2 separate regions of the Homo sapiens genome follow, and region 1 is linked to region 2. The links come from fine-mapping of genetic effects on gene expression. A gene starts in region 2. The other region holds a variant in brackets. All regions are shown on one strand. Distances are between the middles of the regions. Region 1 holds the start of MIR3671 (microRNA 3671). Region 2 holds the start of LINC01359 (long intergenic non-protein coding RNA 1359).

What was found.
Region 1: its variant is fine-mapped to the expression of LINC01359 in whole blood (INTERVAL, PIP above 0.99).

What each region holds. Positions count from the first base shown.
Region 1 is chr1:65,050,720-65,061,215 of GRCh38, forward strand. It overlaps MIR3671 (microRNA 3671), which reads right to left and starts at 7,123; the gene lies at 7,036-7,123. MIR101-1 (microRNA 101-1) reads right to left here and starts at 7,789; the gene lies at 7,715-7,789. It also overlaps a transcript of JAK1 not described here. The variant C/T (reference allele first, on the strand shown) is at 4,766.
Region 2 is chr1:64,995,995-65,006,490 of GRCh38, forward strand. LINC01359 (long intergenic non-protein coding RNA 1359) reads right to left here and starts at 6,482. Exons shown (of 7, transcript NR_119383.1): 1 at 6,335-6,482. It also overlaps a transcript of JAK1 not described here. RefSeq lists an enhancer at 6,498-6,577 and a silencer at 6,708-6,847.

The DNA.
Region 1 (10,496 bases), 55 kb after region 2:
GTATGGTGCAAATTTTAAAGCAATTTTACACATGCTGGGTCTAACTCTGTTTCGAAGCCTCACCTACTAATCAACATAATATTAACTTCTTACATTGTTTCTGGACTCAAATGCCTGCTTCATCACTGACTAGCTGTGTGGCTTAGGGACCCACTGGGAGCCTGAGAGCCTCCTCAGGTTCTTCAATTAGGAAACATGGAGAACTCTTCTACTCTTTGAGGATTTCAATGAGGATGAAATGAGTGCTTTGGTACACAGGCGCTCAACAAATATTGACTCATCTCAAGCAAATACAATTAAGGAAATAAAAGGAGAAAGGGAAAGCCTCTTCTAGCTATTTGATCCAATTACTTAAAATTCTACCTGTAAATTATGCAGGGGATAAGCATTTATTTAACAGTAGCAAATTTTATGCTATTAGACTAGTGCTATTAGAATAGCTTGAGACCTGATAGGTATGTCAGGTTTTTTTTTTTTTAACAGAAATTAGTGAATGATGATAAGTGGAAAGATTCATGTCTCAATATACACTATATATTACACTAGACTTTTAAAATTAAAAATCCATAATTCCCTCTCCATAAAAAAGGGTGTCTATATTCCCAGTGATATGGTTTTCCAGAAATCTAGTCCCTATCAATATAAATCTGGGAATTTCTGCCATTCCAGAGGATCTAAGCTTCTACACTACCAATACTGCATACTAAGGTATCAGCAAATGTAGCACTCCTCCTCAGTCTGATGTCCACAGCACACCCGGGTTGATCACAGGTAGACCCAGAAAGGTGGTTACAGCACTCCTTCCTGCAGAGCCCAGATGTGGTCTCAGAAGTCTTCCCAGCAAAGTGCCCTAGACAGCTAGCCCCCAGTGGACCCCAAGATATTCCTGGTTCGAAGATACTCATTTTCAAATTGAAAAAAACCAATGGGAGTCTAAGTAATTTTTCTGCAATTTCATTTACAAAGATAGTAGCAAAAAAGTGAAAATACATTTTCTACAGACTAAATCGAAATGGTTCTCTATTTCTTCTCACCTTTTAACATCATCAATCTCCTCATAATCTCATGGAAAATAAAATACAGTAATAGTCTAAATGCACAAAGCAACGTATAATCAGCTTACTTTACTCCATTTCAATTATGTGCATTTTAACATATTTACATTAGAAGCATGTATTACAACCCGAAACCTTGTCAGACAGCTTAAAGAACCCAGCTGAGAATGTTCCATACCTGCTTGCTTATTTGTTTATTAAGAGACAGGGTCTGGCTGTTACCCAGGCTGGAGTGCAGTGGCACCATCCTAGCTCACTGCAGCATCAAACTCCTGGGCTCACGCAATCCTGCCTCAGCCTCCGGAAGAGCTGGGACTACAAGCATGCACCACCACGCCTGGCTATTTTTTTTTTTTTTTTTTTTTTGGTAGAGACAGTCTCACTTTGTTGCTCAGGCTGGTCTTGACCACTTTGGTCTCCCAGAGTACTGGGATCACAGATGTGAGCCACCACACCCAGCTCAGGCACACATTCTTGTACTTGGCAATCTCCTCCAGTGGGAATCCTTACACTCATCATGTCTTAAATATGAAAGAAAAATACAAAATGGACTTTTGGTGCCTCCCTTACCTAACTCGTTCATGCTTCATGAAGAATTCTTGTGGTTACAAATGATGACTAGGCCGGGCATGGTGGCTCACACCTGTAATCCCAGCACTTTGGGAGGCCGAGGCAGGTGGATCACCTGAGGTCGGCAGTTCAAGACCAGCCTGACCAACACGGTGAAACCCCGCCCCTACTAAAAATACAAAATCAGGCTGGGCGCAGTGGCTCATGCCTGTAATCCCAGCACCTTTGGGAGGCCGAGGCGGGCGGATCACGAGGTCAGGAGATCGAGACCATCCTGGCTAACACGATGAAATCCCATCTCTACTAAAAATACAAAAAACTTAGCCGGGTGTGGTGGTGGGTGCCTGTAGTTCCAGCTACTTGGGAGGCTGAGGCAGGAGAATGGCGTGAACCCGGGAGGCAGAGCTTGCAGTGAGCTGAGATCGCGCCACTGCACTCCAGCCTGGGCGACACTCCAGCCTGGGCAACACTCCAGTCTGGGCACTCCAGCCTGGGTGTCAGAGCGAGACTCCATCTCAAAAAAAAAAAAAAAAAAAATTAGCCAAGCATGGCGGCGCATGCCTGTAATCCCAGCTACTCAGGAGGCTGAGGCAGGAGAATCGCTGGGACCCGGGAGGCACAGGTTGCAGTGAGCCAAGATCACGCCATTGCACTCCAGCCTGGTGACAGAGCAAGACTCTTGTCTCAAAAAAAAAAAAAAAAAAAAAAAAAAGACTAGAGGCTGGGCACAGTGGCTCACGCCTGTAATCCCAGCACTTTGGGAGGCTGAGGTAGGCAGATCACCTGAGGTCAGGAGTTTGAGACCAGTCTGGTCAACATGGCGAAACCCCATCTCTAAGAAAAAATACAAAAATTAGCCAGGCATGGTGGCATATGCCTGTAGTCCCAGCTACTCGGGAGGCTGAGGCAGGAAAATCGCTTGACCCGGGAGGCGGAGGTTGCAATGAGGCAAGATTATGCCACTGCACTCCAACTGGGCGACAGAGCAAGACTCCGCCTCAAAAAAAACACAAAAACAAAAAACGATGACTGGTAATGGTGAAGACAAAGTATGAATAGAATGCACCTGTAAATATGAATAGAATGCACCTGTAAATATGAATGCAGAGTTTTAAAGAAGCAATTTTTAAAGGAAAAAAATCTCTGAAGTGTAAAAACGTAAGAGGTTTGTCTCAAAGAGCAACTGATCTGAAAGAAATATACTCACTTAAGAACAGGATAGACAAGCCAATGTGGTGGCCTAGGCCTGTAATCCCAGCACTTTGGGAGGCCAAAGCAGGAGGATTGCTTGAGCCCAGGAGTTCAAGATCAGCCTGAGAAACAGTGAAAACCTGTCTCTACAAAAAAATTTTTGAAAAATTAGCCGGGCATGGTGGTGCACACCCATAGTCTCAGCTAATCAGGAGGCTGAGGCTACAATGAGCCGTGATGGCACCACTGCACTCTAAGCCTGAGCTATGGAAGACCCTGTCTCCCCTGGGCCCCCCAAAACAGGATAAGGCAAGTTTGTGGCACACTTAAAATTGGGTGGTTATTCAGAGAAGCTAGAAATGTACTAGGCATAGCAAAATATTTGAAATTAGCGTGGCAGGCAAGAACAACAGCTAGCTGTCTGCTCCAACTCTGTGTAGTATGATCAAGGTAGAATACTGTGCAGGATCTGGTGGAGGTAGTCTAATGTTCCTAAAACTAAAATCTGATTTTAGTTTTAAAAGCATGACCCTAAGTGAGGACTTTGTGATGAAACAGATACGGTCCACAAATGAATCCTTTTTACCCACAGCTAATAAAACATGTGATCCCTTAGGGAAGGTTACTGCTATTTCCAGCCTCAATTATTATATTCTTATTATCAAATTTAAGCATGTAACAACAAATAGGAAAACTATTCGTGACAGACAGCAAGCTGTAGAATGCTCCTTTAATGAAGCTGCTAATACTTGACTTGTAAGACTAACCAGGATACTTTTTAAAACTATACTTAATACTATTATTTCATATATTGTATGTTTATATTTTAATAACATGCCACATTTAAATGCTGCTTTAGTCTCTTATATATATGATTTTATATATATGATTTCCCTAAGAAGGGAAAGGTCTGGGATTGGTGAATCCTCAAGTAATTTGAAACACTAAACATTAGGAGTATTTTAAATTACCTGAGGATTCACCAATCCCAGACCGTTCCCTTCTTATGAGTTCTTCCATAGGTTGTCAGAAATTCCTTTTCTGTTTAAAAAAACTCCAAAGAATTTCAGGAGTGGTAGCATAACTCCAAAGACGTGGGCAGTTGAGGCAACTGGAACAGGAAGAGGACCAGTGAGTTGCCCAATCTCACCAGAAAAGACATAAAGCCAGCAAGAGATGCCACATCAGGTGACTTCTTGTCCACGCCTTTTTCTCATTGTTTTTAATATTCATTGCTACTATATTGAGTTTTCTTTACATTTTACACAATTCTAAAGCTATGCTATGTTGGAAACCCTGGAAACATGTGTAAAGGACTTCAGATTAGAGAACTTGAAATGCATAAAGACATGGCAATTACATTTTAATTGCTTACTTGAAACAGCAGTTATCTTCACACGGAAAACTAAGGGAGAGCAGAGAAATCAACTAAATCCTGTTTTTGGCTTCAAGAGGGTTATTATCCTGAATCTCTTTTATTGTGGTAAAATACACATAAAATTTTCCATTTTTAGGTGTACATTGTGTCATTAAGCACATTCATGTTGTTGTGCAACTGCCATCATCCATCTCCAGAATTTTTTCATCTTCCCCAAATACAACTCCATTAAACACTAACTCTCCATTCCCCCCTCTCCCCCAGCTCCTGGCAACCATCAGTTCCTGGCTGTATGAATTTAACGACTCTAGGAGCCTCATGTGAGTGGAATCATAACAGTATACACCCTTTTATGTCTGGCTTATTTCACTTAGCATGGTATCTTCAAGGTTCATCCATGTTGTAGCATATGTCAGAATTTCCTTCCTTTTAAGGCTGAATCATATTCCAATGTAGGTATACACTACATTTCATTTATCTACTTATCCATCAATGGACACTTGGGTTGCTCCTTTTAGTTATTGTGAATCATGTTGCTATAAACATGGGTATACAATATCTGTCAGAGTGC[C/T]GCCTTTCACATCTTTTGGGTATGTATCCAGAAGTGGAAATGCTGGATTATACGGTATTCCTAGGTTTAATTGCAATCTTACCATCTCACATACTTCACCTAAACTGAAAAATGTAACGAATATACCAACCAAACACACACTGTGTTTTAAGCAAGGCAGTGGAAAAACCCCATTGGATCTGTCTTGCATCACTTCTCTCTTAACCTGCTGGAACACCTTACGTCTATGAAATGCCTTGAAGATGCCAAAGACCTCCAGGTCCAGGCAAGCTTCTGGAGCTCCTGCTGCAGACTAAGCCTCAGCCTTCTTGTTTAGAGGAAAGGGGACCCAGCATGACTCTGTCCGTAGTGCAGGGTGACTGCAAATGACACCCAACACTCAGTTCTTCAACACCCCACAGGCCTGGTTGTAGATTTTGAGGTCAAGGTTGGGTAAGTATAAAACCCAATGAATTTTTATAAAACTAGTAACGGGGAAAACAGGAAGATCAGGGAAGGTGGTGAAATCTTCACCAAGGCCAATGATTGCACAACACATAACTTCTTGAAGCACTTTTTTCCACCTGCTCAAACACTAAACATAAGGAGTGTTTCAAATTACTTGAGGATTCACCAATCCCTAACTTTCCCTTCCTAAAAGTTCTTCCAGAGTTTCTGTCAGAAATTCCTTTTAAGAAAACTCCAAAGAATTTCAGGAGTGGTAGCATAATAACTGGGGAGACCCCTCTCTCTAATTAATCAAAAACGTAGTGTAGCTTATATAGCTTAGAGAAATTGTGGATCTATGAGGACATGTGAAGGTACTGGGCTATAATGTGGTCAATGTGTCTGAAAAAATAACAGTTCTGGGCCAACCAAGTGTGGCTCAAGGGATCACTACTAAGAATGGTTCCTCTTTGGGTAGAGCAGAGGGAAGAGACACTAAAGGGAACTGCAATCACCAGCAAAGGAACACAGTGACCATCAATGTCTGAGGACTGGCACAATGAAGGATAAGAAAGAACCTCTCTGTACGAGGCCTACTCCCTTTCAGTTCCCTTTCTTCCCCATTGTGTCCCAGTGGAGGACCTGATAATACACCTGACCCATATCTAAGACATGCAGTTGGCAGGGCTGATAGTAGGTAAGGTTCACAGTATGTTAAAAAGTCACACGAGGCCGGGTGCAGTGGCTCAATGCCTGTAATCTCAGCACTTTGGGAGGCTGAGGGTAGGAGAATCACTTGAGGACAGGAGTTTGAAACCAGTTTGGGCAACATGGTGAAACACCATCTCTACCAAAAATACAAAATTACATGGGCATGGTGGTGCACACCTGTAATCCCAGCTACTCGGCAGGCTGAGGCATAAGGATCACTTGACCCCGGGAGGCAGAGGTTGCAGTGAACCAAGACTGAGCTACTGCACTCCAGCCTGACCGCAGACTGAGACTCTTTCTTTAAAAAAAAAAAAAAAAAAAAAAGTCACAAATGGTTTTTCTCTCCCTGGCCCCTCTTCTCTCTGTGGTAGGTAGGTTCAAATTACAGCCTAACCTCAGCCATCTCTGTTCTCTTTGCTCAAGCATATGGGTCACTGCTTTGGGTTCCTACACCAGTCAGACATCCACAGGCTCCCAGATACAGACATGAGCCTAGGATGAGGTAATATACCCGATTAGGCTCTGAGCCTAAAACACGTTCCATGAAATTACCTGAGCCTTCCTTGCACAGTACTGTGATCTAAGATCTAACACATAATCAAGTCATGCACTTTGTTTCTTATTTGCTATTGTTACATGTGTACAGTGTCCTTAGGAGTCTACAGGGAAGAGGGATAATTGGCAGAGATTGGCATTGGCAGAATCCTGGGTTCTCCAATAACCACCTTTCACCCCCAGCAGTACTCTCTAGAGTAAGATGGAGGTTGAAGATGTGTGCTGTTAAATTTCCTAATCCTGGCTGGGTATAGTGGCTCATGCCTGTAATCCCAGCACTTTGGGAGGCTGAGGTGGGAGAATCAATTAAGCTCAGGAGGTCAAGACCAGCCTTGGCAACATAGTGAACTCCTGTCTCTACTAAAAATTTGCAGGTGGGTGGCCTGAGCCTGTAGTCTCAGACTCGGGAGGTTGAGGTGGGAGGATTGCTTGAGCCTGGGAGATCAAGGTTGAAGTAAGCTATGATCATGCCACTGCACTCCCGTGTGGGCAACAAAAAAAAAATTTCCTAGTCTTTCATGCACGTGATGCTGGCTTGGTGTTTACAGCTTCGTATTCCTGAAATCGATATGTGCCAGATATCACTGCAGACTAGTCCTTATTTGATAGAAATAAAATAATTTACATTTTATTTTCATGTAAATGTGACAGCAGCAGCAATAACATAGGCATTCAGTAAATATTCTTTTGAATTAGGCCAGATCCTAAATATCCTGAAAGAAACATGACATGTCACTATCTACTCCTTCAAGACAAAGATATACTTTTTTTCTTTCTTCACTTCAGTAAGCTGGTCTACAATGATGGACTTTTATTTATGCAACAATTTCAATACTGTTCAACATATTGGGCTTTTTTTTTCTCCCTGTAAGTAGAATCTGATTTTGAAATCTAGTAGTGTACTGACAAGTGCCAAGCTGTTCTAATTAGGTTACCTTTCACATTTATAAAAATGGTACGAAGTTCTCTGAATACCATTCCAGAAATACTAATTCATACTTACCTATTTTCAGTCTCCTAAAGGTTCCAAAGATCTTAATATATGTTCACTCAGCACAACATGGCTGCACCAACAACTACCCCATGTTACAAAACAAGGCAAAGAGAAGCAGAATAACTCTCCCTATGCCCCGGGAGAAGTATGACAGAGGTGCAGGGTAAGAGGGTTTCTGGGTCCCAGCCACCTGTTTCACATTCCTCTTTCACCTTCTTTCTTCCTGGGTACGGTGAGGCTCCTCTGATGGAAGGTAAGATGGCTGCCATCCTTCAGTTATCACAGTACTGTACCTTTAGAATAGACAGCATCAGCACTGTGATAACTGAGCCAGGGCAGCCTGTCAGTCACTGTGTCGGTCAACGGCATCCTTTCTGGTGGCTGCATTACTCTCTCTGAAGGCTCCCCATGAAGTGAAGGACTAAAAGATCACCTTCTGGTTGGAGACGTGAGGAGGCAGAAGAAAAAGAAGGATCAGAGCCCAGCAAGTGGTGAGGCTGAAATATTAAAAGGCCCAGTTGAATTAAATTAGAATGAAAGATGAACACATGACTTATCCATATTAATGAGGATGAACAACTGCATGATTAGGTTTTCACTCTAATACATCAAATATGCAGTAAGCTTCCAGCATATTTCACAGCTTATCTCTTCCATGCATGGATTCACTGACTGTGCCTCCCTGACCTCAATCATTGATTTTTCATATATATACCGAGGAACTACTACGTTCTAAAGCCCTCTTCTAGATGTTCAGGAAATAAAGATAACTAAGACATGATTCCTGTCTTCAAAGTGCTCATAACCAAACATGACAATAATACTTCATATCTGCCAAACATTCAAAACTGCTCTATATGTTTTCTCATTTGGTTTTCACAAGACGCTATGGGGCTGGCAATGAATTATTCATTAATTCATCAAAAAAGGATTCTGGAAATAGATTAGATATTATTACCCCATTTTATAGGCAGAAAAAAAAAAAAAAAACTTAGGTGATTTGCCAGAGATCATATATTGCTAAGTTATGGCGAACCCATGTCCAGAACCATGTCAAATGAGTGAACACAGTGCTTTGTTTTCTCTACCCTACCCTAGCTGTCCAACTCCATCAACTGGATATTCAGTTTACACAAACAAAAGGATTTCTAAAAACATTTACTTTTTGTTTTAGTTTTCTCAGTAACTGAGATCATGAAGCAGAAGCTAGTGGGGCTTTATAATTAAGAAGAAAAATGCACATTAGCAAAAATGACTTTCATTCCTCTTGCTCTGAGTGCTAAGAATGTACTCAAATTAGTAACATTGATATTTTTCACTATAGTTTATGTCAATTCTATACCTATGGTGATACTGACAACCTTCAGAATACCTTTTTAAAAAGTAATAATAACATATACACATCACTTGCTTTTAAATTATCTGTACCTTTGAGACGTACTCTGAAGTCATTTTAGGGATGATTCTTCCTTTTAATAAAAAGTACAAAAGATTCTGAAATTGGAATTCAGGCATCAGAATATCAACTTATTAAAACCATGATTCACTTGGGTTTTTTCCATGTCATAAGGTTTCAAGTTATTTCAATATGAGTGGAACTTGACAGATATTTGAAAAATAATTATGTTTTCATTAGGCATTTGCTCAATTTCAAAGACTCATTATATGCATATTAGATATTAGCACTGTACTTCAAATAAGTCAGGTAGATGAATCAATTCTTTAGATCAGCAGAAGTCAGAAAATAAAAGTACAGTGAATCTAACTCAACTATTAACTTTACGTACTATGAAAATGACCTTATCTTCAGAAAAGCAACATCCAATGAAACAATCCACCTACACACAAATTAAAAACAACATTGCCTAAAATGCAAAAATATCTAAAAATTAAGGAGGTCATCATCTAGGTCTTAGCCAACTGTAATACAGAGTTGAAACACGAGAGGGCAACGAAGATTAAAGAAAAAAAAAAAATCACAGTTGGATCCCATAACCTAAGGTTCTTGGAAATAGTTGCACATTTTTACCCGAATTATAAACATCTGCTACGTGAACAAAGATACTGTGATTATTTTAGAGTAAAATTTTAGATAGCTGTTCCACGAAAAAGGATAAGATTATCAACTAATATTTCTTGACCACAATTCTGTCAGCTTTGGAAAACTGAATACTTACCCTGAAACACTGAAGGTTGGGTAAGTATGGAGACAAATAAATAATCCTGACATATTTGTAGTTATTAGACTGTTCTTCACCAAAATATTAGTGTGATTCAATGTCTAAATATGAAGTATAAAGACGAAGGAAGTGTACTGCAAAGTTGAAATTCACTCTACTAGCCATCACCAAAACCCATGCAACAACTAAACATTTTTGGTAAAGTAAAAGATACTTCCTTTTTCTCCTTATTTTTCTCTCATTTCATTTTTTTACCTAAATTAGAAAAAAAAAGAAGCCAAGCATCCCTAATAACAAGCAGCAAATTGTCATTATTCTGTGAATGGTTACTTAAATTAATATTCTCTCAGATTCTAAAGCAGTTTCAAGGAAGAAAAATATGGGTTTTCAAAATGGTATTTTTAAAATAAATGTTTCAAAAATGTGTCTTGCTTTTTCTTGAAAATGTTTATAAACGTGCATTTTTGAAAATTTAAATCCATCAGAAATATTTCTTCTTCAACATGTTTCGTCTAAGAACTGAACTGTCTAAATTTATAAACAAGTGACTACAGGTACTCATGCTACAGTAAGAAAAAATAACTGCATACTAAGGAAGAGAGAAAACAGTGATGTAAAATGCTTTCTTCCAGGACCCAAACTGATTTTAAACTACTTCTTCTATGTTAAAAATGATACAACTAGGAACAATTTCTTCATAACGCATATACCAAATATTATCTACAAAACCAGGCACTTATAGAAAACTGGCACACCAAAGAACTTTTAAAATAACGTGGAGTACAAGGCCAGGCATGGTGGCTCACACCTGTAATCTCAGCGCCTTAGGAGGCTGAGGCAGGAGGATTGCTGGAATCCAGGAGTT
Region 2 (10,496 bases):
GGCCATTGAAAGTGCTGGGATTATAGGCCTGAGCCACTGCGCCTGGCTGACATTGGGCTCTTTTTTTTTCTTTCCTTCAAAATAATCATTGAAGATACTCTTTAGACAGTCACAAAACATAATGCTTGGTTAAAATTTTCCCAACCACATAAGCACAAAATATAATTTCTCCCTTATTCTTACCCCACATGCATTATCAACTCCTATCACATCATCTTTTAAATACTTGATATCTGCCCTTTTCCTTCTAGTGCCATCATGCCCACCCTAGTTAAGGCTCCTTTAAAGCAGACTCAGACTGAGCCAATGACTTTCTAGTTGCTCTTCTTTAAATCTCTTGACACTTCAATCCAGTGTGCACATTCTGTAATGCATAGAATGTAAAATTTTTGAGAGCAGAAACTATGTCCTATATTTCCCCATATTATAGATACAGTGATATTTCCCGAATTAAAAATGTAGACACATAATCTGATAATTACATTTGTAGAGAAAAAGAAACAAATCTAAAATTGGACTTTTCCTTCCACATTTGTGGTTATTGTATCTAACAGATACATTCTAACAAAATGCATTCTGCATCATATAAATACAATACACATGGGTTGATTGGTGGGTTAATTGCTTAGTCTGTTTAGAAGAGAGATTGTAAACTTATACAGATCAAATATGACCTGCGGTGATTTTTTCCCAGCACATTAAAACATTTTTTAAACTGTTTGCCAACACTTAAAAATTGCTGAATTCACATAAAAATCAGGCTACACTTGAGAAATCTGAAGAACACCGGATTTTTAGACATCAGCTCAAGCTGAAGCTCGCCTAAGACAGGAAAATCTAACAAAGCTGCAAACCCCAAAGGGGCTGCACTTCCAGTGCAATGATGAACAGGAAAGAAACCTGCTGCACAGAAAGGAGCAAGGAAACTTGCCCATCTGTACCTTGGCATTTGGTAGAGGAAATATGTATATTTCCTCTTTCAATAATTTATATCCACAGTTGATACTGTCATACACATGGGTTTGCAGGTCAAGTCACCCACTTACATAGTTAAAAACAAAAACAAACAAAAAATCAAGGAGAGAGATTAATTTGGTCCTGAGTAAGTAGTTAACCCCAGGCAACTAGTAAAAGTAAACACAAATAATCTCTGAATGAAGGTAACGTCAATCTATGCCTCAAGTAATTTCTACGGATAAAATCCAAGGAATATAAACCCAGAGTCAAAATCCACAAAACATAAAAGTAAACGGCACAATGGGTAAAAACTAGAAGGAGGAGATGGTAAAAATCATACATGCAGTCTTCAAATGTAGAATGACAAGACATAGAATATAAAATAAGAATGTTTAATATTAACTCACATGACAAATATTATTTGAATACCTTCTATTTGCCAGGTATTGTTCTAAGCCTTAAGGATAAAGTGGCTAACAAAATAAACACCCTTGCTTTAAAGAAGTTTACATTTTAAGAAGGGGTGACAAATTACTTAATAAAAGATGTAGGATGGTAGGTGGTTAAAAAAAATCTAGAAGAGAGATACAGAGTATTATAATATAGGATATTTCACTGTCCTTAGAGCCACGCTGGGATTAGCTTTGGGTATGAGAGATAACCTAGGGGTCCTGGACTTTTTGTGTGACTGACATAAACAAGGACAACGGCATAATGGGTTTATAATGGTTGCAGAGAATGGTGGTATGAGTGTGGGAGTGTGGGGCTGTCGGGGACTGTTGTGGGGAGGAGTCTCTTCTCCAGAACATACAGAGTCCTGGGCCTCCCTCTTCATTCTTGACAATGCTTATGTGAAGGATAGAGAAGGAATGTTCTTCTCCAAGGCACAGGTTACCCCAGGGATCCCTCTTGTTTCCTGCTGATGGAAGCCCAGAGCCACAAGACGAGACAGCCTCTCATCTTATCTTTAAAACTTTTGTTTCAAGAAATAAAAGCCTGTAAATATGGTGAAGAAACAAATGACTATACAAACTTTTCCAAACAGATCTGAAATAGAACTTCTAGAAATAGAACAAAAAGATAGAAATTAAAAAGTCAAACAAGTTAAAAAGAAGATTGGATACAGCTGGAGAAAAAACTCATGAACTGGAAGTCAGATCCTAAAAAACTGTCCTAAATGCAGTCCAAAGAGTATGAAGAGATGCAAAATATGAAAGAGAGATTACAAGACTTGGATTATATATTAGAATGTCTAATACACATGTAATCACAATTCTCCAAAGAGATAGAGAAAATGAGGGAGAGGAAATAGTAAAAGAGACAACAGCTGGGAATTTCCAAGCATTGTTGAAAGTAATTACCATACTTACATGGTCACAGCAGGCATTTGAGTTTTTAACCCTTTGTACAAGTTTTTCTTAAGCTACCGTCCAGAAAAATGTCTTTCATTGAGTACTACTTTATAGTTTACAAAAGGCTTTCACATACTAAAATCTATGTAACATGTTTTTAGACTCATTGAAAGTCTTGGATTTGTTTTCCTATTACAACAGGAAACTGAAGTAATCTCTGGCCGTAAGATTAGTATTAAAGCCATTCTCTTTTAAGTGGAAAAAGAGAAGAGGATGTTGATATGGTTTGGCTGTGTCCCCACCCAAATCTCATCTTGAATTCCCATGTGTCATGGGAGGAACCCAGTGATAATTAAATCATGGGGGCGGGTCTTTTCCATGCTATTCTTGTGATAGTGAATAAGTCTCAGGAGATCTGATGGTTTTAAAAATGGGAGTTTCCCTGCACAAGCTCTCTCTTTGCCTGCTGCCGTCCATGTAAGATGTGACTTGTTCCTCCTTGCCTTCCACCATGATTGTGAGGCCTCCCCAGCCATGTGGAACTTTGAGACCAACTAAAACTTCTTCCTTTTGTAAATTGCCCAGTTTCAGGTATGTCTTTATCAGCCACGTGAAAATGGACTAATACAGATGTTTAGGACCAAACTTAACTAACAATAACTACAGCACTTAAGTATGATGAACATGGTAGTAAATTTGATTCATTTTTCTGCAGTTTTCATTTCAATACTCATTTGGGATATTTCCCTTGTAAATCTTCCTATCTTTTGTTTTCTCTCCTCAGGAATGATTTTTGGGGTCCACAGAAGACAGTGCCCTTCACTGGGTTAAGTGATGAGATCTAATTTCATCATGACCTTGAAGGCTCTATAAATCACTTTCTCCTGTTGCTATGTGAACAAAGTCCAAACCTTCTCAGCATGACATAATAGGCTGTTTCTTTGCCATATGTCACTGCCCTCCTTCTCAGCTCTACTCTCAGTGCAAGCACATAAGATAACTCACATGTGTTCATTTATTTGAACACATACCTGGGCACCTTGTTTCTGTATAGGACATTCCCCTTGGCTCTCTCTTTGCCTTTCTCATCCTTCCTCAGTACTCCCCATTAACTTCCTCTCACTTCTCAATCTGTTGGTCTCAAGAAAGTCAGGCTGGGTGCAAAGGCTCATGGCTGTAATCCTAGCACTTTAGGAGGCCAAAGTGGGAGGATGGCTTGAGCCCAGGAGCTCGAGACCAGCCTGGGCAACATAGGGAGACTCCATCTCTACAATAGAAAAAATTAACTGGGTGTGGTGGCACATGCCTGTGGTCCCAGCTTCTTGGGAGGCTGAAGCAGGAGGATCACTTAAGCCAGGGAGGTCAAGGCTGCAGTGAGCCATGATCACACCATTGCACTCCAGCCTGGGCAACAGAGTGAGACCCTCTCTTTAAAAAAAAAAAAAAAAAAAGTCTACTGGTTCTTCAGGATCCTCCCCAAACTGGGTGGGCACCTGGCTGCCCAAAGCTTTCTCTAACAGTATCTACGGCACCTTGAACTACAGTGTATTTTTTTCAGGTCTGTGCTATAATGTATCCATCTCTATATTCTGGCATGTCTGGCATGTGATGGGCACTCAAGCAATTTTTGGTAAATAAACATTATAGAAAGTCTGGGAAAATACTGGGGGTTGGGGGAGAGAATCATAAGTTTTTTTTTTTTTTTTAAGATGGAGTCTCACTCTGTCAACAGGCTGGAGTGCAGTGGCACGATCTTGGGTCACTGCAACCTCTGACTCCCTGGTTCAAGCGATTCTCCTCCCTCAGCCTCCCGAGTAGCTGGGATTACAGGCATGTGTCACCATGCCCAGCTAATTTTGTATTTTTAGTAGAGACGGGTTTTACCATGTTGGGCAGGATGGTCTTGATCTTCTGACCTCATGATCCGCCCGCCTTGGCCATCGTAAGTCTTAAAAGATCATTGTAGGGCAATCCTTATTCCTGAACCCAGCAATACCACTTCCAGAAAATCTACCCATGCAAATAATTGAGAATGTGTTCAGGTATAGTTACAGCCTGGCAAGATGAGTCCTGCCTGTAATCCCAGATACTTGGGAGGCTGAGGTGGGAGGATCACCTGAGTCCAGGAGGTCAAGGCTGCAGTGAGCCATGATTGTGCCACTGCACTACAGCTTGGGTGAGAGAGACCCCATCTCTTAAAAAAAAAAAAAATAACTACAAAGCTGCACACTCCAGTCCTGTTTAAATAGCAATACTTCCGGACACAATTTTTAAGTTATTCAATAGGGCTTTGGTTAAATAAATGTACAATGGAATACGAAGTAGTGATTTAAAAACACGTATGGAAAATATTTTTCCATGATATTTGATTCAAAGGAAAAAGGTGACAAAGCATTGTGTTCGATGTGATTACATATAATGCTATACATCAGATTGTTAACAGTGGTTTTCTGGGTGGTGGGATTTCCATTTATTTTCTGATTCTGGAAAAAATCTGATTTTTCTGCAATGAATAATAATTATTTTTGTGATTTTTAAAAAGGAGGGTTTTTTTTTTGGTGGGGGGGCGGTTGGATTTTTGTTTTGTTTTGTTTTTGAGATGGGGTCTCACTCTGTGGCCCAGGCTGGAGTGCGGTGGCGCCATGGAAGTTTTTGTTTCTAAAGGGTCCTTTCCTTTGGAGCTCCAACTCTACTAAGAGGCCATTCATATTCCCAACATTCCAGGGTGCCCAAAGGAAAGACCTGGCCAGTTATTTCAGCATCAATTCACAAAATGGGGCGTTGGAAGGGGAAAAACAGCTGCTCTAGTTGGGCAGTGATTATTAAACCCCTCCCAAAAATGGAGTGGACAATTTCCAAGATCTCATCATGTTAGAAAACTTTCATTCGCCGATTTCACTTTTCAAGTGAATCCTAAAGCCTGTTTCCTTAATCTTCATAATTTTGGACATTCCACAGCCCGACCCACGCGTTTATCTTTCACTGGGCTGCAGTGATTCCCCTTGTTACCAAAAGGGGCCCAGCCTCCGCCAGCAGAGGCCTCCTGCGGAGCTGGGGGCGGGACCTCTGGGCTGGGTCCCCCTCTCCCTGTGCGCTGGCTGGCGGCGAGTGCAGTGACTGATTTCCTCTGCTCGCCTTCCCGGAGGTCCCCACCCACGCCACTGCCAACGCTCGGAGGAAGTCACGTTCAGGCCCCAGAGCTGGTCTGAATCTTCCAGGAGGAAAAGAGGGGGTGCATGTGTGCGTGTGTGTGTGGTAGTGTGTGTGTTGTATGTCTAAGAGGTAGCAAGTGTGTTTGTGTGCGTGATATGTGTGTTTGAGAGGCAGCAAATGTGTGTGTTGTATGTGTGTTTGAGAGGTAGAAAGTGTGTGTGTGGGGGGGGGGGTATGTGTGCCTGAAAGGCAGCAAGTGTGTGTGCGTGTGGTATGTGTGTTTGAGGGGCAGCAAGTGTTTGAGTGTGAGTGTGTGGTATGTGTGTTTGAGGGGTAGCAGGAACCCTAGCTTGGTGTCTGTCAGTAACTAGATGGTGATGCAGGTAAGTGATTTTCCCGTTGAGTGGATTAAATTCCTAGTCTGTCAGAGAGGGTGTTGACCTAGAATGACTGCGCAGGTCTCCTGTCCAGTGTTAAGGAGCGTGAGTGCCCTGATGTCCCCAGGAGTGCTGCAAAAAGAGCAAAATGGCATATATCAGGCGTCCCCGAGATGCTGGCATCTATGTTAAAACTATCTTATTTCATCTTCCAACTACTCCTTACAATAGGTGCCCTGATCCCAATACAAGATTGAAAACTGAGGCTCAGAGTCTGCGGTATGCTGTCCAATATGTATGTATACACAAACACACACACGTATATACGTATGTTTGTGTGTATATACGTATGTGTATATATGCACATATATGGGTGTGTATGTATATATTTTACAGCCCATTTGGGCAAATGAGTGAGCCCCAGCCAGAAGCAAGCGCCCCCGCTGCCCCTGGGCAGTGGGCTCGGTACCGCCACGCACCCGTCCTATGTGTTACCTGGTCGCTGCTCACTGGAGTGAAAGCCATTTAGTGGCTGATCCAAGGGAAGTATGAGCTAGTGGCATGTCGAGACAAACCTGGATTTGATTCGCAGCTCTGCCTTCTGTTTGACTACAAGCAAGTAACAAGCTTTTGGAGCCTGTTTCCTCACTTCTAAGTGACGCTAATTATAGTATGTACATCACAAGGATAGTGACATAAGTGATGACTGTGACCAAACTTGGATCACCAAGCCTGCACCCAGGGAGCGCTCAGTAACGCAGCGCTGAGGAGTAGGCCACCCCGGAGGGCTCCAGGTTTCAGCGCAGGCTTCCGCGGAGCCAGCTGGATGCGTCACCATCCGAAAGTGCGAGCCTGGCCGGCGGCGGCGGAGGCGGGGGCACCGCGCAGTTGGAAGCCCGGGCGCTCTTACCGAAAGCGCGAGCCCGGACTTCCCCGCCACGATCGATGTGGCCAGTCTGCGCCTGCCGCAGTTCCCGCTCGCACCCCGGCCCCTCGCAGAGTCCCAGGAAAGCGCTGTGGCGGGCGGGCAGTCTCTGCCCCCGGGAGGGGACGCACGCACGCGCTGCTCCTTCCAGGTCCCGGCGGGGAAGCGATGCTTTCTTGGCCCGGGCTTGGGGCCAGCGGGAACCGGGCTGTCCGGCCGCGCCGTCGCGCCTCGCACGGCGTGAGACAACCTAGCTTTTTTTTTTTTTTTTTTTTTAAGAAAAGCATTGGCACCGCAGCAGCCTCCCCCGCTTCTTCCCTACTAGGACGCCCGCCTGACTCGCCCCATTGCACAATTCTTACCGTGGAACAGCCGCGTGACTCGGCGGGAGCCCAAAAGTTTCCCAGGTTTCCTCAGCCTAGAAAAGCGTGGGTGGGTGTCCCGGCCTGGCTCCAGGCGCCCTTTAAGTTGTATTTCTTCGGGTAACTGGGTTGCCCTTTAAAATGTGGAGATTGTCCTTTAGAAAGAAAGAAAATCTCACGAGCTCGCTGGCCCGCCAGGTCTAGGTTGGCGCCGGGTGACTGCAATGAAACGCGTTTCTTTTCCCATGTACATTTTCAGACGGTAAAAGTGTTTCGATTTGTTTGGGGGAGAAGTCAGGCGCTGGTTTTAAAGGAGGAAGGGGAATGATGCTTAAAAGCAGAGACACGATTTGGAGCTCTCCAAGAATCATAGTGTTTATTAACAATGATTGTGCTTAGTAGACACTGAGAAAATATCGAACGAATGAGTATTTGGAGGAGGGATTTAAATGGGTGTCTATAGGCCAACGCTTTCATTCTGCTGATGAGAAAACCTAGAGGTTAAGTGATTTGCCCAAAGTCACCTAGCTAATTAATGTGGAAGGCAGGAATGGAATCTGTCTCGTTTTGACTCCAAATTCTTGTTATGAGATGGGTGCGTTTTCCCCTCTTTATGAAAAAAAAAAATGCCTTCTGTAGTAATCTCTGTAAAGCCTTACTCCACTCCCTCTGTCTACGCATCTAAAGCAAACATACAAAACAAAAAAGAAAACAGCAATCCCCAAATGCAATCCATGCACTCAAATAGGCTAAATTTGGCAATGCCAAAACAATATATTAACAAGGCATTTTAGTTCTTATTCCTATAAATAACACTTTTTTGTTTTGTTTTGTTTTTTGAGACGTATTCTCGCTCTGTCGCCCAGGCTGGAGTGCAGCGGCGCGATCTCAGCTCATGGCAACCTCTGCCTCCTGGGATCAACTGACTCTCCTGCCTCAGCCTCCCGAGTAGCTGGGATTACAAGTGTGCACCACCATGCCTGGCTAATTTTTGTATTTTAGTAGAGACGGGGTTTCACCATGTTGGCCAGGCTGGTTTCAAATTCCTGACCTCAGGTGATCCACCCGCCTCAGCCTCCCAAAGTGCTGGGATTACAGGAATAAGCCAACCTGCCTAGCCAATAGTACTTTCTTATTCACACAAAATATGTGAAGAAAAGGAGGAAGAGGAGGAGGAGGAAAAACAGAATAAGCAAAACAGTGCTTCTCCAAGATGATATGGAAAATACCAAGCTCCCACTAACCTTACTTTTGTAAGTAAGGTGTTTGGTGCTCTGCATAGAAACTGCTGGACTCGTGAGTGACCATCAGGGTTGATCTAAGATTGTCAGTTATTTCACTCAGGCTTTGACTGGATTTGTTGCTCATCTTTCAGAATAGACAGATGCAATCTGTGCAAACACAAGGGACTTCAATGACAATCTTGCAAATAGCTAGACAGCTTTTGTCTTTGACGTTTCTAGGCTGACCAACTATACCAAATGTCTGATTTAGGAACCAAAATTGCAAAACAAGTAGATGTGAAGATCAAAGGAATCAAGACTATAAGTAGGGATTATGACTAAAAATTCTTTTACGTGTTGTCTGTGGTGTTTCCACAATAATAATTACAATGTGGTTATAATAATATAATCCAAGTACAACTTCTTATCCAGGAAGAAGCTGGGACTTCCAGTGATGAGCAGACCAGAAGACCAAATTGTGAAATGTCTCATTTCAGCCAAATACCTTCTGAAATGGAGACAATTCTCATATTTCACTCTGCTATCTTCACTACCCTTTATTTCTGATATCGTGAAGGTGGGGATGTATACTAATGTCTAAAAATTTTTGAAATTCTAAGAGGCTAAATAGAATCTGCTAATTTTAGTTTGATAATCCACAATATTCCTGAAATCAAAGCATCATCTCCTATATTTTTCCCATACTGTGATTTCTAGTTTGTCATTATACCAGGCTACTGAATCTGAACTCAAGAAACAAACAAACAAACAAAAAGCATTTTATCAAACGAAAACTGTAAGACCAGCCTGGCCAACATGATGAAGCCCCATCTCTACTAAAAATACAAAAATTAGCAGGGCATGGTGGCACGCACCTGTAATCCCAGCTACTGGGGAGGCTGAGGCAGAAGAATCACTTGAACCCAGGAGGTGGAGGTTGCAGTAAGCCGAGATCACGCCATTGCTCTCTAGCTTGGGCAACAAGAGCAAAACGCCATCTCAAAAAAAAAAAAAAGTGAATTTTCTGTGGTTATTAGAGGCTGGGAAGGGTAGTGGGAGGGGAAGATGATGAGAGGTTACATAACAAATACAAATTTACAGCTGGATGAAAGGAATAAGTTCTAGTGTTCTATAGCACTATAGGGTGCATACGGGTAACAATAATTTAATGTATTTTTTTCCAAGAAGCTAGAAGAGAGAATTTTGAATGTTCACAACACAAATAAATGATATACTTTCAAGGTGATGGATATGCTAATTACCCAGATTTGATCATTGCACATTGTACACATGTACTGAAATATCATTGTATCCAATAAATATGTACTATGTCAACTAGAAATAAGAGGGAAAATCAATTAATTCTTTAAAAATATGTGAGTTATCTCCAATTGACCTATAGATTTGATTGCAATTCCAATTAAAATCCCAGCAGACTTTTTGATGGAACTTGACAACTTAATTATAAAATGTATATGGAAGTGCAAAGGGCCAAAATTAGCCAAGATGGTCTTGCAGAAGAATAAGTTATAATAAGATGATCTTGCAGAAGAATAAGTTGCCATTCCAGATATTAAAATTTTAAAAGTCATAATAATTAAGATAAATATAATTTGTGAACTCTCATGCTCAGACACCAGTCACACCCATTTTAGGACATCTCACAATTAAATGTTTCACTAACCTTGATGTCTACACTAATATAGAAGTAAACAATAAATATGGGCTTTCTAAGCAAGAGAGATTTTATCTCTTCACATAAGTGTGAAGAAATAATATAGAAGTATCTGTTCCTTATAATGGAGAGTTGAGTTTGGTAAACTCAAATTGTATTTGGTAAACTAATTGATGAATCTCTTAAGGTTTTTTGAATAGTTCACTATGTCATAAACTTAGCTTTCCCATCCACACAGACTGAAATATTTTACCAGACAGTATCTGAATTTGAAAATATCTTTAGGTCTAGGTGATTTGCTTCATGGCTTTTCTTTAATTAAAACGGCTTCTATTGTTTCTTCTTTTTTATTTTTTAAAGATGTGGTCTTACTCTTTTGCCCAGGCTGGAGTGCAGTGGTACTCTCATAGCTTACTGTAACCTTGAGCTCCTGGGTTCAAGGGATCGTCCTGCCTCAGCCTCCTGAGTAGGT